4 linked regions of the Homo sapiens genome follow. The protein of the gene in region 4 interacts with the protein of the main gene of each other region in a pairwise test. Each region holds a gene or a part of one and is shown on either strand. Other genes may lie near its edges.

The links.
Region 1: the proteins of KPNA6 (region 4) and ANP32B interact in binary tests that used the Homo sapiens proteins (3 or more experiments, as listed by UniProt).
Region 2: the proteins of KPNA6 (region 4) and RNMT interact in binary tests that used the Homo sapiens proteins (3 or more experiments, as listed by UniProt).
Region 3: the proteins of KPNA6 (region 4) and NMNAT1 interact in binary tests that used the Homo sapiens proteins (3 or more experiments, as listed by UniProt).

The regions. Positions count from the first base shown.
Region 1 is NC_000009.12:97,978,341-97,986,804, reverse strand, and holds the start of ANP32B (acidic leucine-rich nuclear phosphoprotein 32 family member B), read right to left. Parts: upstream 3,465-8,464; 5' UTR 3,250-3,464; coding exon 3,196-3,249; intron 1,370-3,195; exon of another isoform or gene 1,284-1,369; intron 160-1,283; exon of another isoform or gene 1-159. UniProt on the Homo sapiens protein: Multifunctional protein that is involved in the regulation of many processes including cell proliferation, apoptosis, cell cycle progression or transcription.
Region 2 is NC_000018.10:13,736,425-13,743,924, forward strand, and holds part of RNMT (mRNA cap guanine-N(7) methyltransferase), read left to right. Parts: intron 1-585; coding exon 586-711; intron 712-3,742; coding exon 3,743-3,855; intron 3,856-5,085; coding exon 5,086-5,267; intron 5,268-6,063; coding exon 6,064-6,228; intron 6,229-7,500. UniProt on the Homo sapiens protein: Catalytic subunit of the mRNA-capping methyltransferase RNMT:RAMAC complex that methylates the N7 position of the added guanosine to the 5'-cap structure of mRNAs. Binds RNA containing 5'-terminal GpppC.
Region 3 is NC_000001.11:9,974,397-9,981,896, reverse strand, and holds part of NMNAT1 (nicotinamide/nicotinic acid mononucleotide adenylyltransferase 1), read right to left. Parts: intron 6,306-7,500; coding exon 6,122-6,305; intron 867-6,121; coding exon 727-866; intron 642-726; coding exon of another isoform or gene 598-641; exon of another isoform or gene 131-597; intron 1-130.
Region 4 is NC_000001.11:32,102,700-32,111,055, reverse strand, and holds the start of KPNA6 (importin subunit alpha-7), read right to left. Parts: upstream 3,001-8,356; 5' UTR 2,926-3,000; coding exon 2,922-2,925; intron 1-2,921. UniProt on the Homo sapiens protein: Functions in nuclear protein import as an adapter protein for nuclear receptor KPNB1. Binds specifically and directly to substrates containing either a simple or bipartite NLS motif.

The sequences.
Region 1 (8,464 bases), on a different chromosome or scaffold from region 4:
CATACAACAACAGTATACCTTCAACAAGGGAAACGATTCTTCATGTTACCCCACACGACAAGTCTGCAGGATCCCAGAGGCCAAGCCTACTGTGTAACAGCTGACAATGCCATCAATTTCTGTGGTGTTTATGGCATGTTCCAGCACATCACACATAAGGTATCATGTGACTAGCTGAATGTGATTTTAAGAGAGTGATCTCCAAACTTTTCATTTGCCTTAAGGATGACGCCTCTGTGCGAAAACACTTTAAACTCTCTTTTAGAATTTCCTTCAAAATCTACAGCATTTTTTCCTGAAAAACCCTTCACTTTTAGGTCAAAGTTTTATTCGCCCAACTGGGTACCTAACTCCCACTGGTCTCAGTCTCCCTAAGGGAACCTTCCTCTACCCCCACAATCTTAGCTGGCTCCCACAACACTCTCTCAAGGCCTCATCAACTCTCCCAAGTGCAAAAAGCACCACACCACCTCAATGGTTTCTCAGGCTTAAAATGTTTACTTAATAAACCAGTGGATTCTGCAGGCCAGTGCTGCCTAACGCAGCACCCACGAGCCACTTGTCACGTCTGAGCACTTGAAATGTGGATAGTATTACAGAGAAAATGTTTTAATTTAACTGAATTAAATGGCTCTGGCCTGACTGGCAAGAAGGTTAAGCTGATTACTTGAAAAATGAACTGGTGGCCGGGGGCGGTGGCTCACGCCTGTAATCCCAGCACTTTGGGAGGCCGAGGCGGGTGGATCACCCGAGGTCAGGAGTTGGAGACCAGCCTGAACAACAGGGAGAAACCCCGCCTCTACTAAAAATACAAAATTAGCCGAGCATGGTGGCGCATGCCTGTAATCCCAGCTACGCGGGAGGTTGAGGCAGGAGAATCGCTTGAACCCGGTAAGCGGAGGCTGAGGTGAGCCGAGATAGTGCCATTGCACTCCAGCCTGGGCAAGAGAGAGACTCAGTCTCAAAAAAAAAAGAAAAACAGAAAAAAGAAAAATGAACACCTGTAGATATACATGTGTTTTTAAAGCAATATTACTTCATATATGAAAACATCCTCTAAGGGGAACAGCAGACCAACTGTGTTTCCCAGAGGGAACACTACTCTTGAGAATTTTAAAAGACCTTTAGTTTGAGCATATCCTAAAGAATTCAAATTCTAGATTTTAACGCATTTCTGAAGACCCACGTGTGTACTTCTCTTGCGGGCACTTTGGCTAATTTTAGCTACTCCATATTCTACGGATTTGCAATTACGCCGCAATGGAAAAGTCTGGAATAAACACCTTCTCAAGCCAAGAAAGCCTCTCAAGTTTTGAGGCGCGAGCTGGGCGATAGGCTAGCACGTGGCGGGCACAAAATGTCTGACGGAAGGTCGGAAGAACGCACGCCCGCGACCCTCCATCTCGCAACCCCCGGAGCGGCCCACCCTCGCGGGCCCTCCGGGAAGGACAGCGCCGTGCGGTGGAGCCCGGCCCGCCCCGCGTTAGTGGTGACCTCAAAGACTAGAGAGCAAGGATTTAAAATGTCGAGCACACCAGGTAAACCCTGGTCGACGAATTCCCACAAGTTCGCGACTTGTTAACCACAGCCACCTGAGGGCACGAAACCTGGCCGCTCGCTTAGCCCAGAGCGGGTCGGGAGGCCCCGCGGGGCCGCCCTCCGCGGGAAAGCCACTGGCCCGCTGGGGCACCCGGCCGCGGCGCTAACTGGCCCGCGCCGGTCCGCGGCGGGGGGGGGGCTCGCGACGGCGGGCAGCCGCGCTAAACCCGGGAGACGAATGGGGCAATTCCCACAGGTCGGACCCACGCCCACGCAGCCGCGCCGCAAGAGGGCCGCCCTCAGGCCCCTACAGCCCGCAAGGCGCGCGGCCGACCGCACCAGGCCGCTCTCAAGCACGTGGGAGGCCAGAGGCCGCCCGGCCCACGAGCCGAGCCGAAGCCCGCCCAAAATCCCGCGCGCCCGGCGCGGGGCGGGGGCGGCCGCCTGCCGTTGCCCTTTTAAGAAGGGGGAGGGGGTCGGCAGCGCGCCCGCGACGGGATGAGTCGGCGGCGGCCGCGGCGCGCGGCTCCCGCCAGTGGGAGCCAAGCCCCGGCGGGGCGGGGGGAAACAGACCGAGGGCTCGGCGCGGGAAGAGGCGGCCGCCAGCCAGCGCCGAGGGCGGGCGGGCAAGGCCAAGCTCGTGGGCCGGCTCACCAGGCGCAGGGAGACGGGCACCCGCCAACATGGCGCTGCGGCGGCCTGTGGCGCGCCCCGGCTGGCGTGAAGAGCCGCCGCCCGCCCACACGGAGGGGCCAGCCTCCCGGGGCAAGGGCAGGGGCCCCGGGCGCCGCCGCCGCGGCACAGGGGGAAGGGCGAGGCCGTCGCCACAACGGTTGGCCTTGGTCGACCCGGGCTGCCCCTGGGAGGCAGGAGTGGGCAAGGCCGAGGGCGAAGAGGGAGCGAGAGAACGGGGGAGAAAGTTTTATTTTTGGGCTTGAAAAATGGCGGGAACCACGTCCTTTTTTCAAACTTGGCCTCGGGAGGGGCGGCGGTTGCGCCACCTCCGCCGCCCTGGCCCGCCCCTCCCCCGCTCCGCGCGCCGGGCCGCGCCCGCCCAGGCCTCCAGGCGCCCGAGGGGGCTTCTCGCTCCCTTCAAAAGAAAAAAGCCCCCTCCTCGCCCCACGACTGCTGACCTCGGCCGGGCCGGCGCCCACGGCGAGCTCCGGCCACAAGAGCCCCCGTCCCGCCCCACCCGCGCCCCTTCCCCGGCCGGCCCGGGGCGCGCGGAGCCCGGCCTGGCCCAGGCGGGGATGGCCGCGCAGCTCCTCGGCAGGCCGGGCCTCCGCCCGGCCGCGCATCCCGGGAGGCTGCAAACATGGCTCCCAGCGTTACACAACCCCCGCCTCCCTCTCTCGCCGCCGGCCACTTGCACACGCGCTCCCTCAGGGGAAAGACCCCGGCGGGCGAAGCGCTCAAAGTTTGCTTTCCCCCACACCGCTGCCTCCCCCCGGCCGCCCCAGGGGCCCGCGGGCGGCAAAGAGTTAATCCTCGCGCGCTCGCTCCCCCCTCCGCGCCCGCCCGCCTTCCCCGTCCGAGCCCACGAGCTGCGCTCTTCCCCGCGCCGGGGCCGGCGAACCCTCAGCCCGGGCCCCGCAGGTGGCCACCATTACATGCAAGTCATCGGGGGAGAGGGCACCCAGAGGGGTCTCTGCTTACAGCTGCCGGGGTCCGGTTCCTCAGCTCCAGGTGGATCCTCCTCTTCATGTCCATGTTCCCCTCTTCCCCCCTCTTCAAACTTAACTTTCCGCGGCGGGGGCGGAGGGGGGAGAGGCGTCCCGGCTTGCGCAGCGAGGGCCGTCGGAAGGGTTTGCTAGCGGCGGAGGCCGGCGGCGCGGTCCTGGGTGGCGGGCGGCGTGCGGGCAGGCGAGCGGAGCCCCCGGAGCCAAGTTACTCACGGGAGCGGAGAGAAACCATGGAGGGAAAAGGGGGCTGGAGCGCAGCGCTGGGCTCACTACCGCCGCCCCCGGCCGCGGCCTGCACTGCGCTTAAACCGGCGACGCGGCGCGGCAGCTGCTCGGCTCCACTCGGCCCCGCGCGGCGCTGCTCGGCTCGGCGGCCGCGGCTGCACCAAGGCGGGGCGGGGAGACTCGCGGCGGGCGGGGCGGAGGCTGGGGAAAGGCGCAGCCCGAATAGAGGAGCGACTTCCTCCCTCTCTCCGATTGCACGTGGGGCGGCTGATGTAAGACCTTTCTCGTGGGTGGGGGGGCTTCCCCGCCCCCCGGCCCCCGCCGCGCTGAGACTCCTTCTACCTCCGGCCCCACGTCGTCGCGCCCGGAGCTGGGCTTGCGGCCCGGGCTGGGAGGTTCGCGGGAAGGGTTGGTGGGAAGCTTTGCAGTCCGGCTGCGGGGGTCCCTAAAACCCAGTCCATCCGGGGAGGCTCACGGGGGCGGCCCGACGCCCGCGGAGGCGCGAGATGTGAAGAAGCCGGGGACAGGCTTTGACGTTCACCTTTTGCCTGCCACACAGTCTGGGGCCAACAGGCCGAACCCCGCTGCCTCCTTGGCAGACTGGCGTCCGTAGTGCCGCCGAGGATCCCCCCCGTCGGGACGGAATCGCGGCCGACCGGCCCTGGCAGGGCAGCTGGGGTCGCTTGCTAAGCCACAGAGCAGCCGAGCATCCCCACCCTGTTCAGGAGAGTCTCCCTCGGTTTTCTAACATTTTAATAGGAGCTAGAGAAGGAAACGATTAGCATTTCTAATAGGGCCTCAGGGTTTCCCCGCAGACTTTTTTTTTTAATCTCATTTATTCCTTAGGGCACCCCTGTGAAGTGTGTAAATTCTTGGTGGTCTAAGTTTCGCTGAAACCTGGCAGGCAGCCTTTGTCATGGTCTGGCCCAAAGGGTCCCAGGGGTTAGAGCACCAGATCGGGATGAGTGTTGTGCTTTGCAGAACACCGGGGAATGACGTTATATTCAGCGTACAATAAGTAAATACATAATGTGTCAAATCAAATACAATCTAAGAAGATCGTACTGACAAGAAGCACCAAAAACTAAGAACAATTTGTTAAAGAAAAACTTGAAATTCTATGTATTAACATGAAGTTTTATGGAAGTTAAGAAAGTGCCCCCTTTCCTATTTTACCTAAGTTTTAGTGGCAAACAACCCAAATTTAGTTGTAAACCAATTATATATCAGCTTTTAAAATACTGAGTGAGTTAACATTTGAAGATGAAAGTTTTAGAAGGAATATGGGAAAAGAAAAACTTTCTGGTAGTAGTTCCCTGACTCCGTTTGTAGTCTCAGCAGACGTCTTTATGACAAGGGAAAATGGAGACAGATGTTCTCAGGGTTACAAAAGGTCTGTAACTAAGGTTATGAGAACCACAGGGCTATGCAATGAGGGCTTTTACCAAACAAAACAAAACAAAACAAAAAATCGGTTTCATGAGCCAACAAGCGATTATTGAGGATCTGCTTTAAGGGGCTTGATATTATTTCTCTAATTCTCAGACAACTTTCTGAAGTAGGTGATAATTTAATCATTTTACAGATGAGGAGCTCAGGAATCTTAAGCTGCACGTCCAGCAAGAAGCAGAGCTAGGATTTACACCCAGATAGGTCTGACTCCACAGCCCACCATCTTGTGCTACATCATCAGTCTGGCTAGAGTGGAGTCATAGCATGGTGGGGGGCTACTTTGGTGCTGTAGGTTGGGAACAGTTGCAGAGGGCTTTTAATACCAAACAGCATGCAAGTGTCCTCGTGCAGGAAAAGGGGGGATGGTGCTGAAGGAGTCTTAAACGTGGTAGCTCTGTGCTAGAGAGTGGTAACCTGATGGCTCCCGGAGGAGGTGGTATTAATCCTTAGCATCAGGGCAAATCTTGAGACTCTGTCCTCTCTTTATGGCCAACTGGAGGGTATGAAGGACTCTTTCCCTAGGGTACATAGCTCACAGGATAGATGTGTGTTTTATAGTATTAAGCCACAAAGTAATTAATAAACATAGCCACAATGTGCTGCAAATAGAAGGCAAAAGAGCCAAAGGAGGAGAGACTACAGACACGGCACTGTCCGTTCTTACGCAGCCGGTGCTGGCATGCACCTCTGTGAACAAAGAGCATGTGTTCCAGTGACATGCTTCTTTGTCAGGGGCTTCACTGCCAGAGGCATAAATAACACAGGCAGAGCAGGGTGTGTCTCATTGCCCTGCCAACATCTTCTACGGGACTGTCAGTCTACAGGCCTGAAGGGGCTGTTGTCACAGCGCCTGGGTTTTGAATATTGCTGCTCTTAACATCATTCTCTGCATCTGTGTGTGAGAAAGATGTAGAATATTCAATTATATCTAATCTGCAAGTATTATCATGTCCATGGATTTATGGATTTCAACAAGGGCTGAAAGGGAATAAGGAAATGTAAAAACAGTTTGTTAGACCAAACTAAGAATGAACTTCTTTTTACTTCCATTGATGTTAACGTTTGACCAGTAAGTAATAAAAATATCAAATAATGCCAGGTTTTGGCACCCCTTGAGCCTTAAAACTGCCTGTTAATCAGAATGGCTATGTATTCCAAAAAGCTCTAAAATGTCTGAGCGGAACACTCCGAGCCAGTTTGTAACTCCTTGGACCTGTGCCCCACCCCGCTGCCTCAGCAACAGCATGTTACTTGTCATGTCATCATATGACTTGAGCCTTCCCCACAAACTTTGTGGCTGTGGACAGACTTTAATAAATCTGAAGATGAGAGGAAACAGCCCTACTAGGTCATTGATTTAACTAGCTCTGAAACCAGCTTAACAGAATGGGCACATTTTAGTAACGACAGTATATGAAGCTGATATATAATATAGAGTGAGGAAATGATTACTCTTTAAATACTTCCATTCTTCCCGTCCTCTTCTACACGCATGTGCATACACTGGTAAGAACATATCTCTTCCCCAGCCCGGAGTTTCCACAACTTAGTGTGTGTACCTCTATTATTGCAGTTCGGCAACAAATGGTAGTTATTGAAGGATCTAACTTCTCAATTAGAACTCAGAGAAGTATTTCTGGATGATAGGAATGGAGAGGAGGACCTGGGGTCCATCTTTAGAACATAGCAGATGCTTTGCAAATGTATGTTATGTTGAAAATAGTGTCACATGTACTAAAAAATACCATCTAGGCAGCTGAGATTATTGAGACAAGGGGAGAGGGAGAGGCAAATAGGTGAAAATGGGTTAAGGGAGGAGATCCTGTTAGTCTCCACATGGTAAAAACAGAGGAGGGGAATGTGTCAGGTGTACAGGAAGCTCTAGGCCCAGTAACGGGCCCCTGCCCAGGTTCCTTTCTGCTTTCTGAACCAGCTGGAGGTGCTATGCCTTCCTGGTGCAGCAGGGAAGAGCTATGACTACCAAGAGTCAGGTCTAATATTTATTAAGCACCATCCTTATGCCAAGTGCTATGCATGGGACTTTTGTGTACACTGCTTCTCAGTTAATCCTAGCAACAGCTCCCCGGGCAGGACGATAATCCACCTTTTTTTAGTATTTAGGAAACAGACTCAGCAAAGCCAAGTAGGTTTGCTGAAATTCATATAACTACTAAGAAGCTAGATTTCTCTTGTCATTAAGGGCTCACTGTAATTCATTCTCATTACTTTGATCGACTAGTCCTCACAACTGCTTCTGAAAAAAAAAACATTTTTTTCCTGTTTTAAAAAGGTTTACTTGCTCATTGTGCAGAAAAAATTTAAAAATAGAAAATAAATTTAAAAGTTCCTGCCATTGAGATATAACCACCATTAAGTTGTATATCCTTGCAATTTTTTTCTGTACTATACATATTGTTTTTCAGTGTTGGGATCAGATTGAAGATTTTTTTTAGAAACTTGCTTTTTCCACCTATCATTATGATAAATCTGTATTAATATAACTTTCTTCAGTGGTTTTCCCTTTTAGAAGGACTTCAGTGAGATGAGAATCCCACTCTACCACTTACTGGCTGTGTGCTTTAGGGCAAAACATATAGCCTCTCTGGGCCTCAGGCTGCTCATCTCAGAACTTTTGAGGGTTGGACATAATTACATTAGAGAAGCTGAGTGCCTTTCACTTTTCTCTGCACCCCAGCCACAGTCACTGCAAGCCTGAGTCCCTTCCTTACCCAAGCAGCATCCCAGAGCCTGCCAGCCTCTTCCAAGGCTAGGAACATTCTGCTGTTTCCATCTCTGCTCCATGTGCTACCCCTTTGGCTAAGGGGGAAATATGTTTTTAAATCTCAAATAGTCAGGCTCATTTTCTGCTTCACACAGTCCTTGTTCTCTCTTGAGGAACTTGGAACATGCTCCTGAGCTACACTGGAAAATATCGAAGTGCCCTTCTCCATAATTAGCCAGCATCCCTGCCATCTGGACCCTCTCATACCTCACAGGGATTTCCTTGTCCACATGGAACTGAGACTGATCCAAGAGTCCAGCTCCTGCTGACTGAACTCTGCCATCTGTTCCGAAGCTTGCCTTACCTGCTCCTGTCCAACCAGGCACCCCTCTGTGGGCCTGTGCTTTAGTCCTTTTTCACTCTAGACCCTGGTACTACTGAGGTGGCTTGCGTGGTCCTAAATTTGCTAGTCTCTTATTTTGATAAAGGCTGCAAGTAGCAAATATCCTTATCCTTGAAAATAAGGGCATCTAGGCCCCTGGCTTCTTTTTATGTTTATTTATGCATGTACTATAGAAAACTTGGAAACCATACTTACAGAGAAGAAAATAAGAATTTCCATCCAAGGCTTTTTTAAAGGGCCAAGCACTGTTCATGTTTTGTTGTCTATTCCTCCAGTCTTTTCTCTACACACATATGGCATTTTCTCAAGTCTCAGATAGTGAGAAGCATCATCTCATTAGTAAGACCTTTTCAGGAGGGAGGGAGGGGGAACCCACAACATCAAATATTCATGTCAATTTTAAGAGATATTTCACATATAGAAGTGAAAAAGTATAATACC
Region 2 (7,500 bases), on a different chromosome or scaffold from region 4:
GCTGTTAATGTCATTTAGTAGACTGGGGTCTACCAAATACTGATGATGCTAAAACTAAAAGACATAGTGCTTTTTTTTTTTCTAGTTTTTATATTTCTCTTGGTGGTAAGCCTGACATCTTTGATAATCAGGCTCTTTTATCATTCCATAACAACTTTGATTTACTTACGTGTCTACTGTTAAACACCTAGCTATGGAAAGAGAAAGCTACAAAAAAAAATATGAATAATTAGTTTTTCTAATCCTTACTTAGCTTTTTCTCTCATCCTGAACAAGTGTTGTGTTGTCTTATATTAGAATTTTAAATATCTGCTATTTAAAATTCATTTTTGAAAGTTAACATTCAAAATGCTGCCTTTATTTTCCAAAACACCAGACACGTACTCTTTAATGATAGAGGATCAGATTAATCAACTCTTAGTCATATTTTTAGTTACTTATCAGAAGTTACAAATTACATAAATGGATGTGTAATAGTTTATGTTACATATTGGGCAAAAGATAGTAGGTTATTAGAGGTAACAGTTTATACTTCAGTAAAATTGAAGAAGAGGTAGTTTATTGTGACTGATTTCTCTCTTTTAGGAGAATTTTTGGAAAAGGTACGACAGAAGAAAAAACGTGATATCACTGTTTTGGACCTGGGATGTGGTAAAGGTGGAGATTTGCTGAAATGGAAAAAAGGAAGAATTAACAAGCTAGTTTGTACTGGTAAGATAAATAATGATATGGGAAAGAATAATTTGTAGTCAGATAAATGGAAAATAAGAAGGATTGTCTCAAATTGCAAGATATCTGGGACTATGCATGAGATGGGTTTTTTTTAAATTAATTACGGCCTGACGCGGTGGCTCATGCCTGTAATCCAACATTTTGGAAGGCTGAGGTGGGTGGATCACTTGAGGTCAGGAGTTTGAGACCGGCCTGGCCAACATTGTGAAACCCTGTCTCTACTAAAAATACAGAAAATTAGCTGGGCATGGTGGTGCACACCTGTAATCTCAGCTACTCAGGAAGCTGAGGCAGGAGAATCACTTTTACCTGGGAGGTGAAGGTTATAGTAAGACAAGATCGCACCACTGCACACCAGCCTGAGTGACAGAGCAAGACTCCGTCTCGAAAAAAAAAAAATTAGTTACAAGACTTTCCTGATAGTTTCATAGTAAGATTAATAAGCCTGGGATAACGTTTCCTTCCCAAAAGGAAGGAAGCTATCAAAGATGGTCGGAGTCATGTCTAAAGGGCAGACTTGAAAAGGTTTCCATTGGCAAAAATAGGGCAATTTTAACATTAAAAAAAAAATAGCAGTTGGACACATCAAATCAGAAAAACACATTGTTCACCCTTGAAGGTTGCTAAGAAACTATTCTGAAACTTATAAATTAAGGGGAGGAAATCAAACATTTGTAATCAGATGGTTGAAAAGGGCAGTTCCTTTTTTTTTTCAATCAGATAAAGAGGAATTATAGAATTAGAAAATCATAATTTTTTTCATTCTTTATGAAATAATAGATCTAGGCAATAATTTTTTTTTTTTGCTACGGAAGCCATTAAGGGAAAAGTCGATAGTAACGCAATGAATCAATCAATCAATCACCTTAGCCCGGTGGTTAGTCTTAACACTGAAGTGGGACAAGCAGACGTCAGCGTCTTTCTGATGTGGTGAGTTAAAAGAGATACATACCCCCACTACTGAAGTACTGCCCAAATTAGCAGTTCTCAGATTTTTTGGTTTTATGAGCCCTGTATACTTAAAAATTATTGAGGACCCCAGAAAGCTTTTTTGTATGTAATTATGGTAAGTAGCTACTGATATTTACTATATTGGAAATTAAAGCTGAGAATTTTGAAAATATTTTTTAGTTCATTAAAAGTAACAAGGCTGGCTTTTACATTTTTGTAAATCCCTTTAGAGTTTGAAATTGCAGGAGACAACTGGATTCTCACACCTGTTTCTGCATCCAATATGTTGTGATTTTATTTTGGTTGATAAGTAGTTGTAAAATAAAGAAGTATTTTAATAGCCTTTTTTGATAATTGTAGATATTCCTCTGTTACTACATCAAAACTCAGTAAGTGGTAGTTTCTTAAAGAGTAGTTACAATATGGAATCTGAAACCTTAGTGATGAACTTTTTATACCGTGTAACATTAAAATCCATTAATCTGTCTTGCACTTCCTGCATGATTTTATAGTACTTGGAAAATACTGTTCACTAAAGTTATGCAGATCTAATTGTTGAGAATCAAAAAATCACGTGTTTAATATCACTGCCAATCAGAAAAGTATTGGGAAGAAGTCCAGCCCACAGTGATCAATACGAGTTTTTCAGGGTTGTAATTCTTATTTGAAAGTCAATTTTATTTTTGGCAACAAATACACTGTCCCTTGTCTCCCTTTAAATTAGCGATCCCTAACCTTTTTGGCACCAGGGGCCGGTTTCATGGAAGACTGTTTTTCCACAGAAGCGGGGGGATGGAATTCTACCTCAGATCATCAGGTGTTAGATTCTCATAAGGAGTATGCAACCTAGCTTGCCTGCCACTCACCTCCTGCTGTGCAGCCTGGTTCCTAACAGGCCGTGGACCTGTACTGGTTTGTCGCCCAAGGGTTGGGGAACTTTAAGTGACAGGTTCACTTTGTTCATTTTCAAGAAAATATGTGCCAGGTACTGAAGTCTGCATAACCGTAGTTTGTCAGTCATTCAAGTCAAAATAATTTTCTCAGAAAAAAAGTGGCCAGTACAGCTCAAAACTCAGAACAGTCATATCAGTACTGTTCTTGAAGATGACCATCATACTTTGTTAGGTAGCAGAAATGTTTTGTTACTTCCCATTTCATCACACAACATTTTAAAAAGTGTGTATTCAAAAGCCCAGGTTTAATAAAATTAATTTTCACTATTTTATAAAGGGTATTCTTAAATGAAACTGTTTTTCTCCCCCTGCATATTGTATAGTGGTGAAGAATACATGAAGTACTGCCAGTACCATTTAGTGCTGCTACTTTGTATTTGTGATAAGATCCCATTGCCTTTGCATTATCAGTGTGAATCTTTAAACAGGGAAAAGGGCAGGCTGGGCACAGTGGTTCATGCCTATAATCCCCAGCACTTTGGGAAGCAAAGGAGGGTGGATCACTTGAGGCCAGAAGTTAGAGACCAGCCTGGCCAATGTGGTGAAACCCCATCCTCTACCAAAAATACAAAAAATTAGCTGGGCATGGTGGCACACAACCTATAATCCTAGCTACTCGGGAGGCTGAGGTATGAGAATCACTTGAACCCTGGAGGCAGAGGTTGCAGTGAGTGAAGATTGCACCACTGCACTCCAGCCTGGGCAATACAGCAAGACTCTGTCTCAAAAAAGAAAAAAAGAAAAGGGCTAATAACATTTTATTATAAAAATATACCCTTGGTATTTCCAAAACTGGGCTTATTGATAGTGTTAGGTTTTATAATTCAGATTGGAATAAAACTTTCTCCTTTTTACTTTGAATAAGCATTTAAAAATCATGATAGAACTTTTATAGCGTCCGTACCTATTGAGACGCTTTTAGTTCCTCTTGAAAACTGATAGGGTATTTGCGTCGGAACAAAGCCCTTTTCTTTTCTTTTAAAGGAAATAAAACCTTTTCACTGGTACTAAGGCTGACTTTTATGCCAGAGTTTGTCAGTTGAGATCAATGTCTAGATTTCTGGCATTCTGTGTTGATACTTACTAATACCCTTCCATCCTTCCAGATATTGCCGATGTTTCTGTCAAACAGTGTCAGCAGCGGTATGAGGACATGAAAAATCGTCGTGATAGTGAATATATTTTCAGTGCAGAATTTATAACTGCTGACAGCTCAAAGGTACAGTTTCTTTCTTTGGTCAATTTATTTTTTACATTTTTAGTTTGGGTAAATAATTTGTTTTAAAAATCAACTCAATTTTTACTTTTTTAAAAAAATTTACTCTTATTTTTTGAGACAGGGTCTTACTCTGTCACCTAGGCTGGAGCACAGTGGCACGATCTCAGCTTACTGCAACCTCTGCCTCCCAGGCTCAAGTGATTCTCCTGCCTCCCAGCCTCCTGAGTAGCTGGGACTACAGGCACATGCCACCACACCCAGCTAATTTTTATATATTTTGTAAAGATGGGGTTTTGCCATGTTGCCAAGGCTGGCCTCAAACTCCTGAGCCCAGGTGATCTGCCTGCCTCCCATAGTGCTGGGATTACAGGCATGAGCCATGGTGCCCGGCTACTCATTTTTTAAAATGTGTTTTGAAACTTTAAAAATCTTGGAATATGCATTTTCACTTTTGACTGGAAATTCTATTATGATAAATTCCCTTGAATGACTCACTGAATACTTGTAATTTTTTGCTTTTAATAATTTGAATTGAAATTAGCTGTTGCTTTTCGGTATGGACATCATTTATTTTCCAGTATTTTGAAATAGAACTGAACTTATACTATGTTTTGTTCACCTTGTAATTTATTAGTTTCCCAACATATCAGAGCCTGTTTGGTTTTTTCCTACCTTCCACCTGTTTCTGAATTTCTTAAAAAGAACTGCTTCAAGGGTGAAAGTCTCACCATGAACTTTTTGTTCTTCATTGACTTATTGACTCACTGAACTGTTATAGATACCTTTAATCATACACATTTTGTTTGAAATTTGAAAGTGAAAAAGATAAGTGGGAGTATACTGCCAGAAAGTTGTAATACCTTTAAAACATTTTTGCATTTTTTAAAAAATGCCAAACGCCAGATGTTTTTTAACTCAAGTTATTGTTGAATGTCATTTTATTTTAGCTGTCAAGTAAAGTGATGAAAGGATCAAGTTGAAATGTCATAATTGACTAATATATTTTAAACATGATTTCAGAATTCCTCAGTTTTTAAATACTGTGAAAGTGGGAATCAAATTATTCTGTTAAACTAGAATACATGCATGATTTCTGTGTGTCCTTTATTGTACAAGGGAAAGATTGTGAGGGAAAGGAAGAACCTTACATTCTAGAAGTTAATTTACTAAAAAGTTTTTAATCTTTGTTGTAGTTACCTCACAATCTTAACTCATTTTAATTTGTTTCAGGAACTTCTGATTGACAAATTTCGTGACCCACAAATGTGTTTTGACATCTGCAGTTGTCAGTTTGTCTGTCATTACTCATTTGAGTCTTATGAGCAGGCTGACATGATGCTGAGAAATGCGTGTGAGAGACTTAGCCCTGGGGGCTATTTTATTGGTACTACTCCCAATAGCTTTGAATTGATGTAAGTACTTCTAAATATATTGTGGTTTATAAAATATTCAGTATTAAGTAGCAAATGTTTATCAGAGGTAGATTTTATTAAAATACGCTATTTTAATCTTATAAGTGTTGAACACTTTCATAAGATATTTGAGTAGACATTCAAAATTTAAATTCAATAGACAAATTTACAGGTGAACTTTTAACAGTTCATCTTTGTGTGTAAGTTAGAGACTGAAGTTATAGTGATAGACAAACTGCAGGTCAGATACACAGGCACAGAGATGAACCAGCTGTCATGAGAGTGATACCTACTTCCAGCTTAATTTTATTGGTGTGACTGTTGGTGATCTTTTAGTATATTGCTTCTTAAAAGTAGCTCAAATCAGGAGAGTGCAGTGGCTCATGCCTATAATCCTAGCACTTTGGGAGGCCAAGGCAGGAGGATTGCTTGAGGCCAGGAGTTTGAGACCAGCCTGGACAACATAGTGAGACCTTGTCTTTACAAAAAATTTACAAATTAGCCAGCATGGTGGCACGCCCCTGTAGTCCTTGCTCAGGAGGCTGAGGCAGGAGGATCACTTGAGCCCAGGAGTTGGTGGCTGTAGTGAGCTATGATCACACCACCACACTCCAGCCTGAATGACAGATTAAGACCTTGTCACTTTAAAAAAAAAAAAAAAAGGTAGCCCAGATATAATTAAAAGGCTAATCAAGTGTGCATCATGTAGTTTTTCACATGCATAATCTGATCAAAATAAGTCTACACTAATCACAATTTTAATCTTTTTATTTTGGTTGGGGGATAACCTTGATAGAAGACGCCTTGAAGCTTCAGAAACAGAATCATTTGGAAATGAAATATATACTGTGAAATTTCAGAAGAAAGGAGATTATCCTTTATTTGGCTGCAAATATGACTTCAACTTGGAAGGTGTTGTGGATGTTCCTGAATTCTTGGTCTATTTTCCATTGCTAAATGAGTAAGAAGTCATTAATCTGTTCACTCTTTTCTTTTTGTCTTAAGGGAAAGAAAAGCGGGGAAAAGCAATATTTATTTTACTCTTTATTTTAAATGAGGGCTAAAGAAAAAGTATAATCTTGTTTTTTTGTTTTTGTGTTTTTAAAAAAAAAAAACAAAACAAGACTAGCTTCACATCTAGGGGATTATTGCCATAGGTCTCATAATAGCCTAACTTAGTTTTCTCTCATTCCTGGAATTTTTTAATCCTGTGGGTGAAAAAGGGAACCAGTTGCCTTCAGCTTGTGGCACAAAATGCCTGACACTGCAAATAGCAAAAGTTTTTTTTTTTTTTTTAGTGACTACTGGTAACTTTGATGATAAACAATGAGTCTTCATAAATCAAAGATCCGGCCGGGCGCGGTGGCTCACGCCTGTAATCCCAGCACTTTGGGAGGCCGAGACGGGCGGATCATGAGGTCAGGAGATCGAGACCATCCTGGCTGACACGGTGAAACCCCGTCTCTACTAAAAATACAAAAATTAGCTGGGCATGGTGGCGCGCGCCTGTAGTCCCAGCTACTCGGGAGGCTGAGGCAGGAGAATGGCATGAACCCGGGAGGCGGAGCTTGCAGTGAGTCGAGATCGCGCCACTGCGCTCCAGCCTGGGCGACAGAGCGAAACTCCGTCTCAAAAAAAAAATAAATAAATAAATAAATAAATAAATAAATAAATAAATAAATCAAAGATCCTCCTTTTGACAGAGATGAGTATTAAAAGTTGTTTGCATTTCACTATAACTTTGAAATTGCCTATGTCTCACAGGCAATGTTGATGATAAAATCCTGATTCAGGAATGTATTCTCCCATGTGCCTGAATTCCTAGGAGTCCTGGCAAACTGTAGACACAGGAAAAGCTGGGGGTAACTGGGCCTTACCAGGTAAGGCTTCAAGGCCTTGTGATACACCTTGGTTTCCAGAGTTTCCCCGGTGGGGAGAGTATAAAAGTCAGCTTAAATGTAGGCCATGTCATGATTGATTGAACTTGATTTTCTACTTTTTAGAAACAAAAATCTTTTGTTTTGAATATTAACTGAGAAAAAGAAGAGGTATATTGTCTGCTTACTTCTGCTTGGTGCTTATTTTAATTGTAACTCAGTCAGTCTGTAAAATTAGGGTTACAGTATTTTCAGGAGTTCTATAATAGCTTATTCAATAATATAAGAAAGCCAAGTAGCATTGTGACTGAACATGAGGAAAATACTGTGCATAATTTTATAAATATAAACCATTT
Region 3 (7,500 bases), about 22 Mb from region 4:
AGCAAAACTCTGTCTCAAAAAAAAAAAAAGAATGACAGTTCACAGTTTTTATGAGCTTTTATTTTATGAGAATCAGATTCCCAAAAGAGACCCAGGACACCTCAAAGATTAGAGACCACTGCAGGAGAAATAAGCTCCAAGTGCCTTTTATTCTCCTTCACTTCATGCAACTAACAAGGGGCATTTTCCAGACACCCACAAGTATGCAATATAAAATGAAAATAAAGGCCAGGCATAGTGGCTGACACCTGTAATCCTAACACTTTGGGAGGCCAAGGCAGGAGGACTGCTTGGGGCCAGGAGTTCAAGACCAACCTGGCCAAAATAGTGAGACCCCATCTCTATAAAACAAAAAAAATAAGGCCCAGGCGCTGTGGCTCACGCCTGTAATCCCAGCACTTTGGGAGGCCGAGGTGGGCGGATCATGAGGTCAGGAGATCAAGACCATCCTGGCTAACATGGTGCAACCCCGTCTCTACTAAAAATACAAACAAATTAGACAGGCGTGGTGGCAGGCACCTGTAGTCCCAGCTGCTCAGGAGGCTGAGGCAGGAGAATGGCATGAACCCAGGAGGCAGAGCTTGCAGTGAGCTGAGATCATGCCACTGCACTCCAGCCTGGGTGATAGAGCGAGACTCCATCTAAAAAAAAAAAAATACACAGGGGTTTGCTCAGCTACAGAATCTTATCAACTCTAGTCCGTGGGTCCTGCTAAAACATACAAACCTTTTGTTTTTGGCTCTAGGGATTTCTTTTGACTAGAATCTTGTGTTTCAGTCCACTTCCTCTTCCTTCCAGGCCTTTCTAGAGTAGGTGAGTTCTGCTGGTGATCACAGTCACTAGCCTCCAATTTCTCTTGATGGTGTCTATAAAACAACAAAACAATAGAATATTTCTCTTTCTCACATGCTCCATTAGAATATATCATTAACATTATTTATAGCTGGGCACAGTGGCTCACACCTGTAATCCCAGCACTTTGGGAGGCCGAGGTGGGCGGATCACGAGGTCAGAAGATCGAGACCATCCTGGCTAACACGGTGAAACCCCGTCTCTACTAAAAATACAAAAAATTAGCCGGGTGTGGTGGCGGGCACCTGTAATCCCAGCTACTCGGGAGGCTGAGGCAGGAGAATCACTTGAACCTGGGAGGCAGAGGTTGCAGTGAGCCAAGACCGCACCACTGCACTCCAACCTGGGCGACAGAGTGAGACTCCATCTCAAAAAAAGAAAAAAAAAAGAATATCATTAACATTATTTATTTATTTATTATTTTGAGATGGTGTCTTGCTCTGACGCCCAGGCTGAGTGCAGTGTGTGATCTCAGCTCACTGTAACCTCTGGCTCCTGGGTTCAAACAATTCTCTTGCCTCAGCCTCCCGAGCAGCTGGGATTACAGGGGCGCACCACCACGCTCAGCCAATTTTTTTTTGTATTTTTAGTAGTGACGGGGTTTCATCATGTTGGCCAGGCTGGTCTTGAACTTCTGACCTCAAGCGATCTGCCCGCCTCAGCCTCCCAAAGTGCTGGGATTATAGGTGCCTGGCCAACATTATTTATCATATGCCACACATTACACTGAATCCTTTACATGGATTATCTGATTAAGTCTTCTCAACATAAGATGACTGTTGTGGAAGACTAAAAAAAATTAAAAATCTTCTCGACTGGGCGTGGTGGCTCACACCTGTAATCCCAGCACTTTGGGAGGCCAAGGCGGGTGGATCACCTGAGGTCAGGAGTTCGAGACACAGCCTGACCAACATGGAGAAACCCTGTCTCTGCTAAAAATAGAAAATTAGCCGGGTGTGGTGGCACATGCCTATAATCCCAGCTACTCGGGAGGCTGAGGCAGGAGAATCGCTTGAACCCAGGAGGTGGAGGTTGCAGTGAGCCATGATTGCGCTATTGCACTCCAGCCTGGGCAACAAGAGCAAAACTCCGCCTCAAAAGAAAAAAAAAATCTTCTCAACATCCTATATCATAAATATTATTATCTCCGTAAGGGAAGGAGAAAGGAGGCTTACAGTTGCTACTCCAGCTCCTAGCAGAGTCTATGAGGAGGCATTCAATAACAATTTTTTTTTTTTTTTTTGAGATGGAGTCTCACTCTGTCGCCCAGGCTGGAGTGCAGTGGCACGATCTCAGCTCACTGCAACCTCCGTCTCCTAGGTTCACGCCATTCTCCTGCTTCAGCCTCCCGAGTAGCTGGGACTACAGGCGCCCACCACCACGCCCGGCTAATTTTTTCTGTATTTTTAGTAGAGACAGGGTTTCACCATGTTAGCCAGGATGGTCTCGATCTCCTGACCTTGTGATCTGCCCGCCTAGGCCTCCCAAAGTGCTGGGATTACAGGCGTGAGCCACTGCGCCCAGCCTCAATAACAATTTGATTGAGTGAATGTTTTGGGGTTTTTTTGGTTTGTTTTTCAGAGACACAGGCTCACTCTATTGCCCAGGATGGAGCACAGTGGCACAATCATAGCTCGCTGCAACCAAAACTCCTGGGCTCAAGTGATCCTACCGCCTCAGCCTCCCAGATAGCTGCGACTACAGGCACGTGCCACCATGTTCAGCTAACTTTAGTTTTTTGGAGAGATGAGGTCTCACTATGTTGCCCACACTGGTCTTGAACTCCTGGCCTCAAGCAATCCTCCTGCCTCAGACTCCCAAAGTGCTGGGACTATAGATGTGAGCCACCATGATCAGCCTGAACATTTTGGTTATTACAAAGCGACTATATTACTGCCACCTTGCAGCTAGTTTCACTGAAAATACTTCTGGTTTTAATGTGCTGCTCATCTCTCATATCAGAATTGTTTATTACCCCATTGACAGAGGACACTGACTAATTTGCCTAAGGTCATTTAACTTAAAAGTATTAATAGCAGAGCCAGGACTTGAACCCCAGCAGTCTGGTCCAGAGCCCACACTCTTGACCATGGAAGAGTGTGGCTTAATCTTGTGACAAAGAACCAGAACGCCAAGGAGAAGGTCCTAGAGCGGCAAGGGCCTGAGGCCTTAAAGGAAGGGGCCCTAAGCAGGATTTGTGTATAGCTCTATTCTGGGCTGGCAGCAGGGTGCCCACTGTTTTCAAACTGTGCAATGTTACCCAAATAACATCAACTACACTTGTGGGATCCAACTGTGGGCCTTTATTCCCCTACATCCCAACCCTTCTGAGCAGCTGAGTTGACTATTTAATGGGCAATAAGGTTACTATAAAGCCAGAGGGTCGGGTAGGGCTGTGGCCCAGGAACTTGCTCCCTCATGGGAGAATTTTTTGCCATCAAGCAGTGGAGACTCTTCTCCCTGCCAAGTCTGAAAAGGAAGTCCTCTTGAGAGATCACTGTGTGAGATACTTCCTACTGACTCAGTGCCCAATCCTGCCCAACACACTTCCCAGAGGTCCTTGCAGCAGGCTGTGGACTTGACTGCGATTTCTGCTAATGAGATTCTCTCCTGAGAGATTTGGAAGGCAGAAGGAGGACAGAGGCCATCATCCTGGGACTGTGGAGCCTGACAAGTAATCTTTTTTTTTGAGACGGAGTCTCACTCTGTCACCCAGGCTGGAGTGCAGTGGCGCAATCTCGGCTCACTGCAACCTCCACCTCCCGGGTTCAAGGGATTCTCCCACCTCAGCCTCCCAAGTAGCTGGGACTATAGGCATGTGCCACCACGCCTGGCTAATTTTTGTATTTTTAGTAGAGACGGGGTTTGCCATGTTGGCCAGGGTGGTCTCGATCTCCTGACCTCAGGTGATCCACCCACCTCGGCCTCCCAAAGTGCTGGGATTACAGGTGTGAGCCACCATGCCCGGCCTGATCCTATTATTGCGCTATTTATAGCCAGTAATCCTTTCTAGTGTGGGTGTGGTGGCTAGACGCTGGAGTCCACTGTCCGTCACCAACTTCAGGAGACTGAGACAGTTCAATAGCAGCAGAAGCGGAATTGGTTTGTTGAACTCTGACGGCAACATCGGAGGAGTGACCCTGACTTCCACTTCTCCAGCCCTTTTACTTTTTTTTGTTGTTGTTTTTTGAGACAGTCTCATTCTGCTGCCCAGGCTGGAGTGCAGTGGCACAATTTCAGTTCACCGTAACCTCTGCCTCCCAGGCTCAGGCAATTCTCCTGCCTCAGCCTCCCTAGTAGCTGGGATTACAGGTATGGGCCCAGCTAATTTTGTATTTTTAGTAGAGACAGGGTTTCACCATGTTGGCCAGGCTTGTCTTGAACTACTGGACTCAGGTGATCTGCCGGCCTCAGCCTCCCAAAGTGCTGGGATTATAGTCATGAGCTACCACGCCCGGCCTCAGCTCTTTTAAGTACTTTTTGCCTAAGTACTTAAATCTCTTTCCACTTAAAATATCCAGAGTGGGTTTCTATTTCCTAGTCTGAACCCTAAATGATACAGTCAGTCACTGGAAAGTTCAGAACTCTAAGAACAGATACTAAACAGAAAGGCTTTTCAGAAAGCCCTTTCATTTTAAACTCAAGATAACAACAGGCCAGGCATGGTAGCTCACATTTGTAATCCCAGCACTTTGGGAGGCCTAGGTGGGAGGATTGCTTGAGGCCAGGAGTTTGAGATCAGTCAGCATAGGCAACATAGCGAGGCCCCATCTCCAACAAAAAAAAGAAAATAAAGTTTAAAAAAATCAAAATAACATTAAGAGATAATTAGGTGTCAGCCAGGTGCGGTGGCTCACCTCTGTAATCCCCGCACTTTGGGAGGCCCGAGATGGGCAGATCACCTGAGGTCAGGAGTTCAAGACCAGCCTGGCCAACAGGGTGAAACCCCAGCTCTACTAAAAATACAAAAATTAGCCGGGCGTGGTGGCAGGCGCCTGTAATCCCAGCTACTTGGGAGGCTGAGGCAGGGGAACGGCTTGAACCCGGGAGGCAGAGGTTGCAGTGAGCCAAGATCATGCCATTGCACTCCAGCTTGGGCAACAAGAGTGAACCTCTATCTCAAAAAAAAAAAGAAAAGAAAAGAAATAATTAGGTGTTGGGAGGCTGAGACAGGTGGATCACCTGAGGTCAGAAGTTCAAGACCAGCCTGGCCAACAAGGTAGAACCCCATCTCTACTAAAAATACAAAAACATTAGCGGGGCGTGGTGGCAGTCACCTGTAGTCCCAGCTACTTGGGAGGCTGAGGCAGGAGAATTGCTTGAACCCAGGAGGCAGAGGTCGCAGTGAGCCGAGAATGCACCACTGCACTCCAGCCTGGGTGACAGAGCGAGACTCCGTCTCAAAAAGAAAAAAAAAAAAGAGAAATAATTAGATGTCACTTACTCTGGTTTTTGAACCCTTAACTAGAACTGCTTCAAAGGTATGGGCACAGAGATCTGTGACTCCCTGCCCAGATGCTGTCATGGAAGCAGCACACGAATCAGGCCTGTCCATGATCAAGCAGCACTGGATGCTTCTCTTCCTTAAATTATCTGCCTGTCTCTTTTATACTTAGGAAGACTGATGATAATAACATCTTCTTGCAATTTTCCCTTTCTCATTTGGGGCACAGAAAGCCCAGGCAGGCTTCCTCTATTTTCTAACAGTGGTATCACATAGTAGCAAGCAAGCAAACATCTTTTTTTTTTTTTTTTTTTGAGATGGAGTCTCGCTCTGTCACCCAGGCTGGAGTGCAGTGGCACAATCTTGGCTCACTGTAACCTCCATCCCCGGGGTTCAAGTGTATCTCCTGCCTCAGCCTCCCAAGTAGCTGGGATTACAGGCATGCGCCACCATGCCCGGCTAATTTTTGTATTTTTAGTAGAGACGGGTTTTCACCATGTTGGCCAGGCTGGTCTCGAACTCCTGACCTCAGCTGATCCACCCGCCTCAGCCTCCCAAAGTGCTGGCATTACAGGCGTGAGCCACCGCGCCTGGCCGCAAACAACTTAAAACATAATGAAAGACACAGAGGGGCTAAGGAAGACCCATCCTTTGGTGCTGTGCTCTACAGTCTTGTAGTAACCTTCCACAGGAATGGCTTACAACACACGTGACAGTTTTGCAAATCTGTATGTTCACAGATGTAAGCAACATTGAAACATGGTAAAAACATAAGCCGCTTAGCCATTTACACAGAACTGACAAAGTTGATTACACCATAAATACCTTAGCACCTTCAGAGTCTCTTTCCACTCCTTCTGAAGACTTTCCCATGTATCAACTTCCACCCATTTAGAATTCTTGGTAGCAAGTTCTGCCATGATGACCCGGTGATAGGCAGGAATGAGTCCTTTCTTCTTGTAGGCATCACCAACAGGAGAGATGATGCCTTTGACAACTGTGTACCTTCCTAGATAAAAAGTTAGGTTTCACACTAGGTATAACAAATTAGACTTTATGCACAGGAAATATTACGATCAATATTATTTGTTTTGTTTTGTTTTTTGAGACAGAGTCTTGCTCTGTTCCCCAGGCCGCACTGGAGTGATCTCGGCTCACTGCAACCTCCGCCTCCTGGGTTGAAGCAATTCTCCTGAGTCAGACTCCTGAGTAGCTGGGATTACGGGCGCATGCCACCATGCTGGTTAATTTTTGTATTTTTAGTAGAGATGGGGTTTTTACCATGTTAGCCAAGCTGGTCTCCAACTCCTGACCTCAAGTGATCTGCCTGCCTCAGCCTCCCAAAGTGCTGGGACTACAGGCATGAGTCACCACACCTGGCCAATATTGTTTTATAATCACAGATTCTCTTTCTTTAGGGATTCCAGCTTATTAGCTGATCAATTAACTGACTGAAATTATGGTAAAATATACCCAAGCGTACAGTTCTATGATATTAACTGCAAACATGCTGTTGTGCAACCATCGCTCCTATCTATCTCCAGAATTTTCTCATCTTCCCCAACTGACACTCTGTACTTCACCTCATTCCCCTATACAGTTAAATTTCTATTGATATTGCCAAATTACTTTGTAAAAAGCCTTAATTTGTATTGTCCACCTAGATGTATGCAAAAGCCCATTTCTCAATGTCATAGGCAAATAGTGAGCTTTAGCATCCATCCATCCATCTACCTATCAGCATATTATATGATCATTTATGTAACAAAAAAATCGAGGCCAGGTGTGGTGGCTCACACCTGTTATCCCAGTGTTTTGGGAGACCAAGGCAGGAGAATCACTTGAGCCCAGGAGCTCAACACCAACATGGGCAAAACAGTGGGACCCAGTTTCTACAAAAAATTAAAAAATTAGGCCAGGCGCGGTGGCTCACTCCTGTAATCCCAGCACTTTGGGAGTTCGAGGCGGGTGGATCACGAGGTCAGGAGATCAAGACCATCCTGGCTAACACGGTGAAACCCTGTCTCTACTAAAAATACAAAAAATTAGCCAGGCATGGTGGCGGGCACCTGTAATCCCAGCTACTCCGGAGGCTGAGGCAGGAGAATGGTGTGAGCCTGGGAGGCGGAGTTTGCAGTGAGCTGAGATCATGCCACTGCACTCCAGCCTGAGCGACAGAGCAAGACTCTGTCTCCAAAAAAAAA
Region 4 (8,356 bases):
ACTAAGAAAGGCCTATCAGTCTTATTACTCAATAGGGAAACCTGGAAACCAGAGTGCTTAAGGGAAAGGAACATTATTGAAAGTGGAAAAGAATCTGTTCTGATATTCATGGAGCCCTTTAGGCTCCAAACACTGTTATCTGTTTTTTGTTTGTTTATTTGTTTGTTTTTGAGAGGGAGTCTAGCTTGTTGCCCAGGCTGGCATGATCTCGGCTCACTGCAACCTCCGCCTCCCGGGTTCAAGCAATTCTCCCTTCTCAGCCTCCCAAGTAGCTGGGATTACAGGAGCACGCCACCATACCCAGCTAATTTTTGTATTTTTAGTAGAGACAGGGTTTCACCTTATTGGTCAGGTTGGTGTCGTCCTCCTGACCTCAGGTGATCCACCCGCCTCGGCCTATGGGATTATAGGCCTGAGCCACCTTGCCCAGCCCAAATGCTGTTATCTTATTTAGTCCCCAAATATCTTGATAACACAGCCCCACCCCTTCTTTCTAGAGGTCAGAAAAGGAAGGCTCAGAAAGGAAGAAAAACATTATTGTGGACTGTGCTAGATGCTTTCCATATGTGTTGTTGTGTCTGACATTTAAGTGACTTCCAATACCAGATCTGATTCTACAGTCATTGCCTTGAAGCTCAAGTGAATAATTTCTGCTTCCTTAGAATCTCAGATCTTTAAAAATCCAATTCCAGGCCAGGCGCGGTGGCTCATGCCTGTAATCCCAGCACTTTGGGAGGCCGAGACGGGCAGATCACCAGAGGTCAGGAGTTCGAGACCAGCTTGGCCAACATGGTGAAACCCTGTCTCTACTAAAAATACAAAAATTAGCTAGGTGTGGTGGTGGATGCCTGTAATCCCAGCTACTCAGGAGGCTGAGGCAGGAAAATTGCTTTAACCCGGGAGGCAGAGGTTGCAGTGAGCCGAGATCTGGCCACTGCACTCCAGCATGGGAGACAAGAGTGAAATTTCTTCTCAGAAAAAAAAAAAAAAAAAAAAAAATTCAATTCCAGATTCTCATTTTGCTTGCCCCACACACAATAATTAGAGTTATCAATTCACTCTGGACTCCTTCAGTTTCGTTCAGAAAAAGGATTTCAAAGTGGCCGGGCATGGTGGCTCACGCTTGTAATCTCAGCACTTTGGAAGGCGAGGCGGGAGGATCACGAGGTCAGGAGATCAAGACCATCCTGGCTAACACGGTGAAACCCCGTCTCCACTAAAAATACAAAAAAATACAAAAAAAATTATCCAGGCGTGGTGGCGGGCACCTGTAGTCCCAACTACTCGGGAGGCTGAGGCAGGAGAATGGCGTGAACCCGGGAAGGTGGTAGTTGCAGTGAGCCGAGATCGCGCCAATGCACTCCAGCCTGGGCAACAGAGCCAGACTCCGTCTCAAAAAAAAAAAAAAGATTTCATAATGGGCCCACATGCAAAAACAAAAAGCAAAACAAAACAAAATAAACAAACAGAAAACCCAAACACATTTACAACTTTGCCTAGGGTTAAAAGCTTTTTTCCCCTTTTCTCCCTGCCCAACCACTAGAGGGCCAGGTCATTTAAAAAAAAAAACAAAACAAAAAAACAGGCTGGACGCAGTGGCTCACACCTGTAATCCCAGCACTTTGGGAGGCCGAGGCAGGCGAATCACTTGAGGTCAGGGGTTCGAGACCAGCCTGGCCAACATGACGAAACCCTGTCTCTACCAAAAACACACAAAAATCAGCCGGGCGTGGTGGTGGGTGCCTGTAATCCCAGCTACTCGGGAGGCTGAGGCAGGAGAATCGCTTGAACCCGGGAGGCAGGAGGTTGCAGTGAGCCGAGATCGCGTCACTGCACTCCAGCCTGGGCGACAGAGCAAGACTCTATCAACAACAACAACAAACAGCAGTTACAAACTAGGCTTGGGAGTGTTCACCCTGGCTTAGCCACTGCATGACCTTGGGTAAGTTACTTTACCTCTCTAAAGCTCAGCTTCCACATCTGTAAAATGGCAATGGTAGCATCTATTTCCTTAGGTTGTACAAATTAAGTAAAACAAGACATGTAAAGCAATCAGAACAATGCCCGTACGTAGAAAGAGCTTAGCAAATTTCACAATTTTTACTGCTTTAGAGGAATTACCACTGTTGGTTCTGTCTCTAAATCCAAAGACTTCGCCATGGTATTCTCTCTGAACAGAGGCCTTGCCAGCCGGAGTCCCCTCAGAAAGATCAACAGGTCGCTCCTTTTCTCCTTACCAGGGCCAGCCCAGAAACCTAAAGTCCTCAACCTAAAGATGGCCAAGAGGACTTGGCCTTTGGTGTTCTACCATCACAAGCGATGCCACTCTGAGCCCAACCGAACCACACTATTTCCGCCTTGATTCCGTTCTCCCGGCCTTCAGCGGCGCAAGCTGCCCTCGGCCTGGCTGCCCATGCTTACCGGCCTAGTGCTGGCTCGCCTGACGTCCCCTCACTAGAGGACTCCACCTCGCTACGTAGGTAGGACTTCCCTGAGTTCAGGGGAGCCACTGAATCTAGTCAAGACACGCGTTGGCCAAACACAACCCAGGAGAAAGCTACCTTAGCGCCGCCCAGGCCTGCCGCCGGGAGCCCGTCCCCCAGCCCCAGTCTGGGCGCAGGACAGAGAGTAGGCCCCTTTCTACCTCCCAGGAACACGTGGGCTCCTGCCCGAGGCCACCATGTGGGGGGCTCCAGGCGTGCCAAGGTGTCCCCGAAACCAGCACCAAAGGACTGCTTCCAGCACGGGCCCTAGCTCGGCCCAAAACTGGCAAGAGGGGCACTCCCGGCCTGACTTTTCCCCTCAGACCTAGCTAGAGGGGATGCAGACATCTTCCGCAGACCGGAGACAGGCTCTCGCCAAATCCCAGGCCCCGACACTCCCTGAGCCCAAGAACCCTACTGCGTGGTTTCCTCACTCACCCATCGCGGGTCCGCTCGCTCACTCTTGGCGGCGGAGGCAACGGCGGCAGCTTCAGCGGCAGCTTTCAGTAGACAATATGGCGGATCTGTAGGACGGCAGCCCGAAAGGGACAAACCAGTTAACTCCAGGACGAAACGCTTTATTGGCCCAATCGCCTATCATTACACCGAAAGTGCGCACTTAAAGAGACCGCAGCTACTAAAGGTGGGGAGTGGAAATGAAATAGGAAAGGAGTGGTTGGGAGGAGACTGGAAGGGATACCTAAGAAAGTTAAGTGTGTCTAGGAGTTCCCAGCTGTTTCTGCTACTATTTCTTTTTTATAGTGAGATTTCTTTACCCGGAACTTTTTCTCCCAGAAGCTTATCCCTCCTTTTTTTTTTTTTTTTTTTTTTTTTTTTTTTGAGACGCAGTCTCGCTCTTGTCCCCCCAGGCTGGAGTGCGATGGCGCGATCTCGGCTCACTGCACACTCTGCCTCCCGAGTTCAAGCGATTCTCCTGCCTCGGCCCCCCGAGTAGCTGGGATTACAGGCGCCTGCCACCACGCCTGGCTAATTTTTGTATTTTTACTAGAGACGGTGTTTCAACCATGTTGGCTAGGCTGGTCTTGAACTCCTTACCTCAGGTGATCCGCCCGCCCCCAAAGTGCTGGGATTACAGGCTTGAGCCACCGCTCCGGGCCAGTTTATCCCTTCTTCTAATAGTTGAAACCAATCGGCTGGGCGCTGTGGCTCACGCCTGTAATCCCAGCACTTTGGGTAGGCCGAGGCGGGCGGATCACCTGAGATCAGGAGTTCGAGACCAGCCTGCCCATGGTCTCTACTAAAAATACAAAAATTAGCTGGGTGTGGTGGCGCATGCCTGTAATCTACTTGGGAGGCTGAGGCAGGAGAATTGCTTTAACCCGGGAGGCAGAGGTTGCAGTGAGCCGAGATTGTGCCACTGCATTCCAGCCTGGGAGACAAGAGCAAAACTCCGTCTCTAAAAACAAAAACAGCAATCATAGACCTTGGGCTGAATATGAACAACGAATCATCTAGAGAGGGGAAGTGCCTTGCTCAATGAGGCTATGGAGAGAAGGAAACAAAGAAGTAAGACTAAACTCAGGTTTTCTGATTAGGCCTACGTAGGTAGCCCTAGTTGAGGTTGCAATCTTATTGGGAGATGAGAAATAGAAAAATAGGGCTGGGTGTGGTGGTTCACGCTTGTCTATAATCCTAACACTTTGGGAAGCTGAGGCCAGAGAATCACTTGAGGCCAGGAGCTCAAGACCAGACTGGGCAACACAGTGAGACCCCATCTCCACAAAAAATAAATTAAAAGAAAAAAATTAGCCAGGCATGGTAATGAGCACTTGTACTTGGGCGGCTGAGGCGAGAGGATCACTTGAGTCCGGGAGGTCAAGGCTGCAGTGCCATGACTGTGTCACTATACTCCAGGTTGGGTGATAGAGTGAGACCCTGTCTCTAAAAAAAAAAAAAAGAGAGAGAGAGAGAGAGAAAGAAATGGGCTGGACATGGTGGCTCATTCCTGTAATCCCAGCATTTTAGGAGGCTGAGGCGGCAGATTGCTTGAGCCCAAGAGTTCGAGACCAGCCTGGGCAACATAGCAAGATCCCCCGTCTCTAAAAAAAAAAAAGAAAAACAATGAGACCCATGCAGTATAGTTAACAGAGTGATTTCATAATCATTTCATTTATCCTCACAGCAAGCTCCTTGAAGGCAGGGGTGGGTTCTATATTGTTTACCACCGTATCTCCAGCACCTAGCACAGAATCTGGCACATTGTGTGTGCTCCATAAATAACTATTGAATGAATAAACAAAGGAATGAACAAAAAATTGAGTTACACAGAGCAAGGGACATGATCTCCCCTTTTAGAGATGAGGAAATTGAGGCTTTTATTGTTCATATGCCTTTTCAATCACGGGACGTATGGCTAGTACATATCAGGCCTTTCTTTTTCCATGACATGGCAGCCCTCCTGTCCCCCACCTCGACACACAGAGCCAGGCTATATCTTCAAGACACAGAGGGATCTATCTTCTGGAAGCAGAACAAGGGCCTGTCACAACAAACTGCCAACTTTAGTTGTGCGCCTGGCCCATTTTCTTGAGGCAAAGAAATCAAAAGGAAAACTCTAGGATGAAGGTCAGGAAGGGGCGCACTTTATTTCCCTTCCTACTGCCCCTGCTTAAGGTGAGACCTCATCACTTTGCCCTGTTCTGTTTTGCCTGCCTCCTCTCTGGCCTCCTGCCTCCAGACTCTCCGGCTCCCACCCACTATCTCCTGAAAAGCAGAGACCTATAATCTCAGCTACTGGGAAGGCTGAGGTGGGAGAATTGCTTGAGCCCAGGAGTTCAAGACCAGCCTGGGCAACACAGAGAAACCTGTCTCATTAAAAAAAAAAAAAAAAAAGAAAAAAAAAAAGAAAAAAAAAAGCAGAAACCTTACAGTGTAACTCTTCTGCTTAGCAACTTCCTACTGCCTGCCCTTAGGTAATGCCCAGACATTTTAATCTGGCACAGACTGGTCCTTACCTGCTTCTTGGGACACTCCCCACCAGGCAATGCAGGCTCCAACCATATTTGGAGAACCACTTTTCTTCAAATATGCGCCTGTCTTCTCATGTGCCTTTGCATATGCTGTTCCCTCTGCTTAGAATGCAGTGCCCTCCTTTCCCCACTTAACCATGAGAACTACTCACTTTTTTTTTTTTTTTTTGAGACAGAGTTTTGCTCTTGTTGTCCAGGCTGGAGTGCAATGGCATGATCTTGGCTCATTGCAAACTTCACCTCCCAGGTTCAAGCAACTCTCCTGCCTTAGCCTCCTGACTAGCTGGGATTACAGGCATGCGCCACCACACCCGGCTAATTTTTTGTTGTTGGGTTTTTTTTGGTGTTTTGGTTTTTTTTTTTTTTTTGAGACAGAGTCTAGCTCTGTCGCCCAGGCTGGAGTAAAGGGGCGTGATCTCGGCTCACTGCAACCTCTGCCTCCTGGGTTCAAGCGATTCTCCTGCCTCAGTCTCCCGAGTAGCTGGGATTACAGGTGCCTGCCACCACACCCAGCTAATTTTTGTATTTTTAGTACAGACAGGGTTTCACTGTGTTGGCCAAGCTGGTCTCGAACTCCTGACCTCGTGATCCACCCGCCTCGGCCTCCCAAAGTGCTGGGATTACAAGCATGAGCCATGGCACCCAGCCTAATTTTTGTATTTTTAGTAGAGACGGGATTTTGCCATGTTGGCCAGGCTGGTGTTGAACTCCTGACCTCAGGTGATCCACCCGCCCCAGCCTCCCAAAGTGCTGGGATTACAGGCGTTAGCCACCGCGCCTGACTCTGAGAACTACTCGCTTTCAAGACTGAACTCAGCTATCAGCTCTTTGGGGAAGCCTGTCTTTCCAGATAGGGCACCTGTCCTCTCTGCTACTACAGGAAGAAATGGACACTAATTTTCCTTAGCATTTCACACCCAAATTTGCTCACAATGTGTGTCTCTCTCTCCTTGTCTATGGAAGGAACAGTATCTTCCTTATCTTTGTAACCATCCCAGTGTTCAGCACGGTGTCTGCCTCAGTAGAGGCACCAAAAATATTTGTTGAGGTGTGTGTCTCCCATATAGCATTGTGAGCTCGTCTGCATACCTTATGGCGAAGAAGGGCTCAGGGAACGTGGGCTGAATAGATGAGAATGGCTGAGTGTCCATGTTTCCTCTCCTTTCAGCCTGAACCCTCCATCCTATGCCCATAGGAGGCAGTGACCTACAAGCAGCTGTTTCTACTCTAGCACATGACCCTGCTCATACACCTTTGCTAGCCTAGGACTATTGGTCCTCCCTGATCCAGCCTCTGTTGACTTTTCCCATTCCACTTTTTTTTTAAATCATTCCTGCTCTAAGATCCACATTCTGTTTACCTTCCCCGAAACACACCAGGATGTTCCAAATCTATGTGCTACTGCATGTGCACTATTACATTTGCCTGCTTCTCTAACTGAAACACCCTTTTCCTCTCTTGTTCACCTAGGAAGTGGCTAATACAATTCAGACTATCCCCTCCTCCAAAAAGCCCAGAGAACATTAAGCATTCTCTCCCCTCTGCTCTGTTGTACCTTGTAACTGTTGGGCTCATCCCAGTGTAGTATTACTTGCTTGTTCCAGTGTCTTGGCATCCTCACCATCTACCATAATACCCAGCAAGGAGGGTCCCAGTGACTGCATGCTGAGATAATCAAGAAATCACATTCTGCCAGGATAGTAGTGTCATCTTTCAGAGGTTTTTTATTTTTATTTTTGAGACAGAGTTCTGCTCTTGTTGCCCAGGCTGGATCTTGGCTCAGTCTTGGCACTGCAAGATTGCAGTGGTGGGATCTTGGCTCACTGCAACCTCTGCCTCCTGGGTTCAAGCAATTCTCCTGCCTCAGCCTCCCGAGTAGCTGGGATTATAGGCATGCGCCACCCGCCATGGCTGGCTAATTTTGTATTTTTAGTAGACAGGGTTTCTCCATGTTCGTCAGACTGGTCTCAAACTCCTGACCTCAGGTGATCCACCTGCCTCGGCCTCCCAAAGTGTTGGGATTACAGGTGTGAGCCATGGCGCCCGGCCTTATTTTATTTTTTTTGAGACAGCATCTTGCTCTGTCACCCAGGCTGGAGTGTAATGGCGCGATCTCAGCTCACTGCAACCCCTGCCTCCAGGTTCAAGCGATTCTCGTGGCTCAGCCTTCCAAGTAGCTGGGACTACCGACATGCGCCACCACACCTGGCTAATTTTTATATTTTTAGTAGAGATGGGGTTTTGCCATCTTGGCCAGGCTGGTCTCGAACTCCTGGCTTTCAGTGATCTGCCCACCTCGGCCTCCCAAAGTGCTGGGATTACAGGCTTGAGCCACTGTGCCCGGCCTTTCAGAGGTTTTATGTCCAGCTCTACCACTTCCTAGCTGTGTTACTACGGGCAAGTCACTATAACTCTCTGAGCTCCAGTTCTTCATCCATTGGAGTGATAGCACTTTCCTCCTAGGGTTGTCATAAAAGTTAGATTAAGGCAAGGCCTGAAATACACACAGAGCAGCATCTGGCACACAGTGAGCATTCAGTTCGCAGTAGCTATCACTGCTCCCGTGGCCTCCAGTGCCTTCTCATCTCCTCTCTACTGAAGAAGGCAGTACCCACAGAGGCTTCAGAAGCCACATGTTGGGGCTTCCTAAACCAGAATCCCACACCTCTGTAATAGGTCTCACACACACGAAGGAAAAGAACCACAGGACACAGGCTTGTTGGGAGTATAAAAATAGGACTTTTTTCCTTATCACATCAATTATCAAAGAAACAGTACGTAACAAAAATACAAAGCTCTGGTGGATTTTTTTGTCTTTTGTCCCCCCCACCACCACTTCTACCCAACAGCCCCTTGCCAGGGAGCCCTTGGCTGAAGCCTGGA